Linked DNA regions of Homo sapiens. The protein of the gene in region 2 purifies or fractionates together with the protein of the main gene of each other region. This does not show direct contact. Each region holds a gene or a part of one and is shown on either strand. Other genes may lie near its edges.

What was found.
Region 1: the proteins of AKR1D1 (region 2) and GEMIN5 purify together in Homo sapiens (affinity purification with mass spectrometry; 3 studies listed by BioGRID and IntAct, with this or other methods). This does not show direct contact.
Region 3: the proteins of AKR1D1 (region 2) and DIRAS1 purify together in Homo sapiens (affinity purification with mass spectrometry; 3 studies listed by BioGRID and IntAct, with this or other methods). This does not show direct contact.

Annotation. Positions count from the first base shown.
Region 1 is NC_000005.10:154,931,488-154,935,237, forward strand, and holds part of GEMIN5 (gem-associated protein 5), read right to left. Parts: intron 764-3,750; coding exon 612-763; intron 91-611; coding exon 1-90. UniProt on the Homo sapiens protein: The SMN complex catalyzes the assembly of small nuclear ribonucleoproteins (snRNPs), the building blocks of the spliceosome, and thereby plays an important role in the splicing of cellular pre-mRNAs.
Region 2 is NC_000007.14:138,114,458-138,118,207, reverse strand, and holds part of AKR1D1 (aldo-keto reductase family 1 member D1), read right to left. Parts: intron 1,589-3,750; coding exon 1,546-1,588; 3' UTR 1-1,545.
Region 3 is NC_000019.10:2,719,799-2,723,548, forward strand, and holds the start of DIRAS1 (GTP-binding protein Di-Ras1), read right to left. Parts: upstream 1,575-3,750; 5' UTR 1,506-1,574; intron 1-1,505. UniProt on the Homo sapiens protein: Displays low GTPase activity and exists predominantly in the GTP-bound form.

The DNA.
Region 1 (3,750 bases), on a different chromosome or scaffold from region 2:
TGGTTTGATCTTTGCTTCCAGTGGCTAAGTAGCAACCTTTTGTTACTGGAGCTTGTGCTACAGCATTCCCGTTGGTAATTTCAGCTTCTTCTATGAGATAGGTGGCAATTTTGTTTTTAATTTACATTAAACACGCACTAATATAAAAAAATTAGTTTGCAAGAGTTTCCAAAACTTAGCTATCTCTTTCATAGGTCTGAACTATAAAATTTGAAGTTTTAGGTATAATTAAAATGATATAATTCGGCCTGGTGCAGTGGCTCACGCCTGTAATCCCAGCATTTTGGGAGGCTGAGGCAGGTGGATCACCTGAGGTCGGGAGTTCAAGACCAGCCTGACCAACATGGAGAAACCTGTCTCTACTAAAAATACAAAATTAGCTGGGCGTGGTGGCGCATGCCTGTAATCCCGGCTACTCGGGAGGCTGAGGCAGGAGAATCGCTTGAACCCGGGAGGCGGAGGTTGCGGTGAGCCGAGATCACGCTCCAGCCTAGGCAACAAAAGCAAAACTCCGTCTCCAAAAATAAATAATAAATAAAAAATGATATAATTGTACCCGTTCTGTTCTTCAGGTCTCAAGTGGACTTAACTTTCCCTTAAACCATCTCTACCTGAAGTTTCCTCTTGGTTTATAGATAAACAATCTTCACCAGGCAGGGGACACCAGGCTATGGAGTGGATTTCATCATCATGGCCTCGAAGCCTATGAATAACTTCTCCTTTCTTACTGATGTCAATTATCACCACTATGCCATCCTTGTAGCTAAAAAACAAGAGTTAGAAATATTACTAAAAAAATGAAGACAGAACAGAGTCTCTAGTAAACATTTTGGCTTGGAGTTACCATTGGCGCATTCCTTAAAGTTAGGTGCATTTGGGGTGGCGGAGGAGGGAAGAGGACAAAAAATAATTTTGCTTTTTCCTTTTTTTAAAGTGCTCACCTTATGCCTCCTGGTTTTGTTAAAACCCTTCTCTCTATGATCAAACTCTTGGCACTAGGTAATACTATGTATGTTGCCTGGTACAAAACTCACAGTGGACCATGATTTTGTTCTAAGGGAATTTTCATAGTTTTTGCAAGGGTGCAGCAACTCTTCTTTTTTCCTTCTCTGTTGCCCAGGCTGGAGTGCAGTGGCACAATCACCACTTACTGCAGCCTTGACTTCCCAGGCTCAAGCAATCCTCCCACCTCAGCCTGGGACTGAGTAGCTGGGACTAAAGGTACATGCCATGCCCAGCTAATTTTTGTATTTTTTTGTAGAGATGAGGTTTCACCATGTTGCTCATGGCTGGTCTCAAACTCCTGGGCTCAAGCAATCTACCTGCGTTGGCCTCCTAAAGTGATGGGATTATAGGCATCAGCCACCACACCCGGCCAACTCTTCTAACTAGAGATAATTTTGTCCTAGTGCACTGGAAAATAATCTCTTTCTTTATAAGTGATACTACTTTTTAAACTGTGAACTTAACAAAAGTTGCAGAATTCTACACTCTAGACCTGCATATTCCAAGGCTGTCATTTTATGAATTCAAAAGAAACTGAGAAATTCTAATAGCTTTTTAAAAATGAATGACTTCAGATACATAAAAAAAGTAATCTACTACCCTGCCTAAGAAAAATAATTACCAATAGAGCTGAAGTCCTCTGTACATTCCACTTCAATCAAACCTCTCTCCTTGCCAGATCTCTTCTCCTTTTCTTCCTCTACCCAGAGGTCAAACTCTATTTGTGAATTGTGTTATATCATTCCTAGCCTTTCTTTGTATATATTCCTAAATAAGATATAGATTTTGCATATTTTAAAACTGCACATAAATGCTATCATCTATTTTCCTGCAGCTTGTTTTTTTCACTCATTCTGTTTGTAATTCATCCATGTTGATACACGTAACTCTAGTTCCTGGCCAGTCATTACACTATTGTATTAGTACTGCACTGTGTGAATATTTCAAAGTTTATTCATTTTCCTTTTGAAGGGCTTCCACTTTTTTACAACAAAAAAATGCTATTAATGTTCATGTACACATCTAAGACAATTTCAGGTTTGATGACTAGTAATGGAACTGCCAGGATGTTAAGATATATGCATTTTTATTAGAAAGTACAAAACTGCATTATACAAAGTGGCTGTACCTATTCACACTTCCTACACATTACAGCATTCGACAGGGAAGAACACCAGCACAGCTTTATTTATTTTTTTTTTTTAAAAGAAACACTAGAGTATGTCAACCTTTGAAGACCCGGACTTTGAAAACTGCCAAGTTATGCAACCTAATCACCAACAGATCAAGCTATTTAGAAATCTGAATCAAGCTTTCTGGGAATAATACTATTCTGAAGATCCTCCCCTGACTCCTGCCTACCACCTTTCTGTTCATCCTCTCTATCAACCCTACTACAACACTGCTCCCACTTCAAGAGACTGCCGATCCAGTCCCCTTCCATTTTCACTATCACTCACCCACACCTGTCTTTCCATACATCCCCCTACCCAATGCAGCACAGATTTCATGATCCATCACTATCATTGACTTTTTTTTTTGAGATAGAGTCTTGCTCTGTCGCTCAGGCTGGAGTGCAGTGGTGCAATCTCATCTCACTGCAACCTCCACTGCCCAGGTTCAAGCGATTCTCCTGCCTCACCCTCCTGAGTAGCTGGGCTTACAGGTGTGCGCCACCAAGTCTGGCTAATTTTTGTTTGTTTGTTTTTTTGAGACAGAGTTTCGCTCTTGTTGCCCAGGCTGGGGTGCAATGGCTCAATCCTGGCTCACCACAACCTCTACCTCCTGGGTTCAAGTGATCCTCCTGCCTCAGCCTCCCTAGTAGCTGGGATTACAGGCATGCGCCACCATGCCTGGCTAATTTTGTGTTTTTAATAGAGACGGGGTTTCTCCATGCTGGTCTTGAACTCCCAACCACAGGTGATTTGCCCACCTCGGCCTCTCAAAGTGCTGGGATTACAGGCGTGCACCACTGCACCTGGCCTGATTTTTTATTTTTAGTAGAGATGGGGCTTCACCATGTTGGCCGGGCTGGTCTTGAACTCCTGACCTCAGGTGATCCACCCGCCTCGGCCTCCCAAAGTGTTGGGATTACAGGTGTGAGCCACTGCGCCCAGCCTTATCATCAACTTTTAAAAATACCCGTACGCCCCGTCTCCTTCTCCCTCTCCCTCAAGAGTACTTACTCCACAAAGCCCCAAACCTGGCTGAATCCAACCATCTCCTTTCTCAAACAGTTTGGGTTTACTTTAAATTTATGGCCACGATTCTTTGTTTGCCACTCAACAGTGAACACTGGGCCTATAATTTTCCTTAGTACATTCGTTTTCCTATTCTCTTTGACCATTTTCATACCTTCTTTGCATATCCAGTTTCAACCCCATGATGAACTTGACTCTACCACTCTGACTTATGCCTCAATGAGAAAATCAGAAATACCAGAATAGAACACCTTTTTCTTCCAAGCACATCTACAAATCTACCTGCACCTATTTCTATATTCCCAGCTGTTCTTTCTTCTTGTCATCTGAATCCAATCCCCTCTTGACTTTTCAGCAATACCCCTGCATTTATCATAGTTTACTCCTGCAACAAGCTCTTCCTCTTTTCAAGCCTTACTTTCATCAGCATAAAAACAGGTCCCTGGTATTTTCCATTTAATACTCCCTTGACCCCATCTATCCCCTCTGGCTTCATGTATATGCACATTTTTACAACAAACTTTGTGAAAGAGTTGTTGTCTCT
Region 2 (3,750 bases):
CAGTATAGACCAAATTTTTTAAAATGATAATTTCTCAAAAATATATGTCTTGAGGTCATTGAACATTATCTATAAGCAACTGATCTTGGGAAAACATAATTTTTGAAGAACTCTCTCATCCTATGACAGTATGACAGTGACCTAATGTGAATGAATAAAATATATTTCTTTTCTTTTTTTTTTGTTTTTGAGACGGAGTCTCGCTCTTTCACCCAGGCCGGACTGCAGTGGCGCTATCTCGGCTCACTGCAAGCTCCTCCTCCCGGGTTCATGCCATTCTTCTGCCTCAGCCTCCTGAGTAGCTGGGATTACAGGCCCCCGCCACCGCGCCTGGCTAATTTTTTGTATTTTTAGTAGAGACGGGGTTTCACCTTGTTAGCCAAGATGGTCTCGATCTCCTGACCTCCTGATCTGCCCACCTTGGCCTCCCAAAGTGCTGGGATTATAGGCATGAGCCACCGCACCCGGCCAATAAAATATATTTCTGTAGTTGAATTGAAAATAGATATATCTCTATTGCTGAATTCTAATAATCTTATTCACTCTTTAAATTGTACATACAGGAAAATTACCAGAGTTCTTTTGAACTTGCTTTCTCAAAATTCATATAAAATTCTCAAAATTCATATAAGCTATCCAAGTAACACTATTAAAGTCTTAAGTACAATAATCTTATAAAGCACCTTGTTTCAATATATCTCCCAAGTTAAGAAGAAAAGCCAATATATGGCTTCTCTTTTACTATTTTACAAGGCAGGGTTTTATTTGTATATGTTGGTTGTTTCAAGCCTTTTCACGTAATAGTGGTTCTATAATCAATGTAGGCAAGATTGACAGTAAGATGTGTAAGTATGGATCAGCAGCCATGTTGAGACTCAGGCCCTTTAAGGATGCAAGAGAGATCCAGTTAAGTTTTCATTCCTCAGGTTGGATAAAAACTAAACATACATACATTGGAGGGAAACAAACACCAACATTATGATGGCTTTGTTGACCACTGTGGTGTTTAGCTCTATTTTAAGACTTTTCTACATGTAGCCCTCTCAACTCAAGGTGCAGCAAATCACTTCCTTGTTAATAATGTGTGTGTGGATCTTATCTTGGCTGTGTCTGTTTTGTAACCAATGGTCCAAAGCCTCAAGGCCACTGCCAGCACACTGCCACATGCACTTCGTTGTCCTGTTAACCCTTAAAGAACTCAGATTACCAACGCTACTACCCAGATTCATAAATTACTTGTTGTCATATGTTGCCTTTGATGTCTTTTCTGAAGTGTAATTTTTTTCTGTCTGGAATCTAGAAGATACTGATCTGAAAAAATTAGTTGATAATTTCCTAAGAGTTATTTCAACAGATTTTAATATTTTTACTTCAATGTGACTGAGTCAAAGTCATTTACACTGCACAAACATTAAACATGTTTCCATCATTATTTCTTCTCAGGATGGTAAAACCCTCTCTCTTCATTTTCACATCTAGGGGACTACCCATTGCACCGTCTTGGCACTCGTGGGAGTGAAAAATCTGTTCAGGAACTCCCTGCAGTCAGTATTCATCATGAAATGGGTATTCAGGATGATCGCGCCACCTGCCAAAACAATTCCCCCACAGAAAAAAGTTCACTCAAAAATTGCACAGCTGTATGTTTCAATAGCATCCTTTGAGAATTTCACTGACCACTACCCCTCTCTCCTATTCATTCCTCTGCTGTTTCTTACCTACTTTCCTCTTCTGTTTTCCCTCAAGCCAGCACCTTTTCCTGAAGCTCTGGACAGCCTCCTGAATGTGAGTGTGTTGAGGGAAGGTTGGTGGCCACCTTATCAACATTTTACTCAGAACAGAATCCCCAGTGGTGAATCATGTCTTAGGCATGTCATGTGCACATGCCTCTTCCCTACTCCTTCCCCCTTTCTGTTCCCTTGACGCTGGCTGCCTCCTTCTCCAATCCACTACATGGGCATTTCTCTTCAAAACTCTTATTACCAGTGTCACCCTCTGCTGATTAGCATTTTTTTCTTCTTTTTTTTACAGATGGAATCTCACTCTGTCACTCAGGTTGGAGTGCAGTGGCATGATCATAGCTCACTGCAGCCTCAAACTCCTGGGCTCCCAAGCAAGCCTCCTGCCTCAGCCTCCCAAGTAGCAGGGATTATAGGTATGTGCCACCACGGTTGCCCAAGCTGAACTCCTGGGCTGAAGCAGTCGCCCTGTCTCGGCCTCCCAAAGTGCTGGGACTATAGGTGTGAGCCACCACACCCAGTCTCATTAGCATTTTTACTTGCCCCTCTCACTAGACCTCCTGCGTGTTGAGAGTTTGAGATCTAGAAAGGTGATGAGTAGCAAAATAAGTTTGCTGGATGATTATGACGATGATGATGGCAGTGAATTTAGCTCTTAAATAACAATGATGAAATGGTCTGTAAAATGTCTGGAATGTGTGTGTTCCTGATTTAGTTTTCTGCATGTACTGTAAATTAAAATGGAAAATATTAAGATTTTCAAATGTTAAAAATCAACTTGATAAAAGCTGAAAAAAATCATGGTCCAATATCTCTAAATGATACAGTATTTGTGATTAATGGGGCCTAATTCTTGTTCCACCTTGCTGATTTTTCTAGTTATTTCCTGGTAAGAGTTATTTTTTTTTCCCCGAAGTTGCTAGAATTGCTTTTAAATATGTCAGATGTCAAACTGAATAATGTCACCAACTGTCTGTAAAACAATTAGTACATTGGTGGATTGATTATACTGTTTTTGTTTGTTTGTTTTTTGTTTTGTTTTGAGACAGGGCCTTGCTCTGTCTACCAGGCTGGAGCGTAGCCTTAGCTCACTCAAAGTCTGGGGTCCAAGTGATCCTCCCACCTCAGCGTCCTAAGTAGCTAGTACTACAGGTGCATGCCACCATGATGGCTTATTTTTAAATTTTTTGTAGAGATAGGGTCTTGCTATGTTGTCCAGGCTGGTGTCGAACTCCTAGCATCAAGTGATTCTCCTATCTTAGCCTCCCAGAGTGCTGGAATTACAGATGTGAGACACTGCACCTGGTTTCTCTTCTTAACTTAATGATATATTATTGATTCAATAGAAGTCATTTATCTTCAAGAGCTATTAATTAACCTATAACTGTTAGTTCTAGGAAAGTGTTATTTATGTGTTTATGTTTACTCTTTTGTTCTTGAGGTTGGGTGGTGGTGCCTTTTGATGTCAAACAATTTTCCCCCTGAAAAATTTCCATTAGGAAGTTGTTTTATTAATTCAGAAATTCAATATTAATCCAGTCACTGTACTTTCTGACCCATGAAAAACAGTAGGATCAGTAAAGTAAGTGTCCAAACTATATGAATCATCTTAGCATTTTCTGAATGTTCACTTAAAGATTCAAGATGAAGATGAATATTCAGGTGATTTGAAGAACTGGAAACATTAATAGAGAATGATTAAGAAGAAAAAAATGCATGTGTGTGTATATGAGTATATATATGTATATGTGTGTGTATATCTATACACACATATATAGCAAATATATTCTTTTTTTTTTTTTTTTTTTGAGATGGAGTTTTGCTCTTGTTGCCCAGGCTGGAGTGCAATGGCATGATCTCGGCTCACTGCAACCTCTGCCTCCTGGGTTCAGGCAATTCTCCTGCCTCAGCCTCCTGAGTAGCTGGAATTACAGGCAACTGCCACTACACCCAGCTAATTTTTGTATTTTTAGTAGAGACGGGGTTTCTCCATGTTGGCCAGGCTGATCTC
Region 3 (3,750 bases), on a different chromosome or scaffold from region 2:
TAAGGTGACAAGGTGGAGAAAGGCCCTAGGCAGTGCCCTGTACAGCGGAGACCCCGATCACAATTGTGATCACAGTCACAAGGGCTTGGGGCCGGTGGGCAGGGCACTTGGCTGTGCCTGTTGGTTGCAAAGGCACCTTCTGGATTATCAAGGGTAACAGATTTGCCAGGAAAAGAAAAGAGGCTGATGAAAGCGCCAGCTGACACAGTCCCCAGTTGTGATGAGCCAGGCAAACTTCTGGGCGCCTCGGCAATGCCAACTCATGTGATTGGCTGCCGGGTTTGTGGACTACATGCATAGTAATTTCTCGGCATTCGGAGGAGGCTGGGGGTGCTGGTGGTGGGGGGGAGGCGGCCTGTGCTGCAGACCCTGCCCTTTCCTGGGTGGGCGCCCTGAGAGGCGGGCACGCTGCTGTGCAGAAAGACGCCACCAAGACCGGCCTGGGGTCCTAATGGCCATGGGTTCTGTGGACCCAGATCCAGCCTTTGCCTTGCTGCGGGCACTGAAGCTCCAGCCCCCATGAGCAGTACTGTCCTCCCCGCTGGGTCTGGAATCCCTGACCAGAAAGGCGCTTGCACTCAACAGCCCCGAAGCCCACGCCACTTCCCACCTCCACCGCCTGGGGGGTGCGGGTGGAGGGAGGGGGTCGTGGGCACCGAGGCAGGAGCAGGAGGGGCTGGCTCAAGGTCACAGAGCAGGGGGGTGGAGGCGCACAGCGGGGCTGGAAGCCCACCCTGCTTGGCTAGACTCCTGGGGTTTCCCGCCTGTGCGGGGCAGCCCACCCCCAGACGTCCAGGCAGGGCCAATCTACCCCAGCCCTGGGTCCCTGAAGCCCGGCTCCCGGCCGGGCACGGCGTGGTTGGTGGGGGCGGGGGTGTCAAAGCAAAGCTCAGGGTCAGGAAAGCAGAGAGAGCCGCGACCCAGGGGTCTAGCGGGGGTCACGCCTGACCAAGGGTGGGGCGGGGGTCTGACCCAGGGCCGCCTGGCCGGTGAGGGGTTTGATGGAGAAAGGGCCTGCTCTAGGGGGCCCGAGGGCGCAGAGGCACAGTGCGGGGCCAGCCCAGGGGCGACCCTTGACTCAGGAGGACCTCAGTGGTGGAGAGGAGGAGCCCACCCCGGGGAGGGGGCGCGGAGGGAGGGGCTTGGCTGGGCAGCGGGGCGGAGGGCGAAGAAGGCGGCTGCAGGAGGGAGGAGGCCCTGCCCGAGGGGACCAATGCGGAGAGGGGCGGCGGGGTGGGCCTCGGTGGGGCGGGCTCGGCAGGGGGGCGCCCTCCGGGTGGGGGAGGGGAGGCGGCCGGGAGCTGTCCAAGGTGAGCGCGGAGGGGCCGGCCGGGCCCGGCGGGAAGGGACGGGGGACGCCCGGCGAGGGGCCCCGGAGCCACGCGGGGAAGGGCCCGGCCCCAAGGCCCGGGAGGCTGGGGCCGGGACAAAGGAGGGACGCGCGGCGGGGAGGACGGCCGGCTGGGGGCTGCGCAGGGACCCCCTCCCCGCCCCGGGCCGCCTACCTGGGCCCGCTGGTCCCTGCGGCGCCGCGGCCGCTGCTCCTGCCCGCTCCGGTGTCCGCTGGCGCCGCCGCCCCCCGCCCGCCCGAGCCGCCGCAGTCGCGCCCGCGCCGTCCCCGCCCGCCGGGCCCCGCGCTCCGCCCCGCCCCGCCCCGCCCCGCCCCGCCCCGGGGACCCGCGCCCACGGGGCCGGCGCGCCGCCCGGCCAAGGTCACCGCCGCCCCACGCGGGACCCCTGCCCGCGCCCGGGGTGGGAGAGGTCGCCAGGATCCGGGACCCCCGCCCTGCCACGTAGCCACCTGCGCGCGCCCTCCCTCGGGGTGGGAGCTGGGGCCGCTTCCCGGGGAACCCCGAGTGGGGGCCAGGAGCCCGGCTTGGGAGGAGCAGAGTCCAGCCGGGGGTGGAGGGCTTTGGCAGAAATGCGGATAAAGGGGGTGCAGAACGGGACCCCTGAGGCCGGCTGGGGCCCGGTCACACGCAGGGCGGGGAATCAGAGGGGTGCGTTGTGAAATGAGTAAGTCGATAATCAACAATCAATGAACAGGTTTAGAAGCGGGCAGAGGCGGGAGGGTTCAGGTCAATGGGGTGCACCTGGAGGCCCACCCATCCCAGGGGCCTGGGCAGGGGCGGGATGGGGGCAGAAGCGGACTCAGCGCTCTGTAGGGCTGGTTTTGTGGAGGCGGAGGCAGCCCATGGCAGTCAGGCCTAGGGAGGTGGGGGGTGAGCAAAGGGGGCTGGCGCTGCTCTGCAGCGGATGGGTTTGCCGTTTTCGGTTAGGAAAATGTTTGTGTTCCCCCAACAGGAGGTGTCTTAGGGGAGCACTGGCTTTTCTGATGCGTCTGTGTGTCCACAAGAGACCATGGTTCCGCCTCCATTTTGGAGACCGGGAGGCCGAGGTTCCTTTTGGCCTCATCGGGCAGATCCCAGAGGAGACTGGACTTTGGGGTCTAGTGACCAGGCCAGAAGGTGCTCTCAGGGGTGGGTGCGGGACAGTCCCAGGCCGCAAGGCTGTCAGAGGAAGGCGCCCCTTGGTGGAGAGGCCAACTCTGGGACCCACAGGGGTCTCTCCAGAGTCAGAGCCATCAGTGGGTGAGAGGCTGGTCTGGAAGGTGGTGAGCTCCCCATCACCAGGCCTGTGAGCAGGTGAACCCCTTGGGCCCTCAGCTCCTGGGGTTCTCCATGACCCACCATTTCCATGGCCCTGGATGAGGTGGGCCCATCTGCCTCTGCGGAGACTTGGCACTGCCTCCAAGACCACTCAGTCCCCTCTCCTGTTGCCACTGAGGCTGGGGCACTGAGGTTCAAGCGGCTTTGGGGCTCAAGGAGCTCTATTTCTCCCTGATTTGACCCCACTCCCCCTCCTGGCCTCCAGACCCCTTCCTCCAGCCCTCCTTCCACTCTGCCACTCAATGCTCCAACTGCAACATGGGCCTCCCCTGCTCTAACGCCACCCATGGCTCCCTTCTCCCAGGCCAAGGTCCAGCTTCTCAGCCTGGCATCCATGGCCCGGCCTGAGTGCTCCTGGCGTGCACCTCCCTCCCACCCTGACCCCAGCCCTGCGGGAGCACCTCAGAGCATGGCCCGGCCCCTGACCCTCATCTGGGGGTGCCCTCAGCAGGAGATGGAGACAGCCCTGAGGGCAGACAAATCCCAGCTTCTGCTCTACATGGCTGCCTGCAGGGAAGTGCCTTCTCAAGCATCGGTTCCCCCATCTGTGAGTGACGTCACTGTTGCCCGCCTGTAGGGTTGCTGGGAACACATGGGCAGGGCGCCCACCTACACGGGGCTGCTGGGCACCCAAGCACTCAGACGGCAGCCCTGCCCCTTCCCAGTCCGCCTGCCTGCCTTCGTCTCCTGAGTGACCCACCAGCGTGGGGCAGGGCGTCGGGCCGGCTCCCTGTCTCCTCCGGGCACCAGCTCAGGCCGGGGCAGGCTGACTCATGCGTAGGAGAGTGGGCAGGGCGGTAACTCCACGCTGCGGCTGCTATTTATAGCTCCCAGGCCAGGCTGTGGGCCGCGTGAGCCGGCGAGGCCAGGCCCTGTTCCCCTCCTCGCTGTCCCTGAGGAACGGGGTCTCCACACATGGCCCGCGGTGCCCAGGCCACAGATGGCAGTGAGCTCTTCCGAGCACCCAAACTAGGACAGCAGGAGCTTCTCCCCCATGGTGGGCCGGGGAGCAGAGGGTTCCGCCTGGCCTTTGTGAGTGGGGGTGGGTGGGCGCCCCAGCTCTGCCTCTCCATGGAAAGGT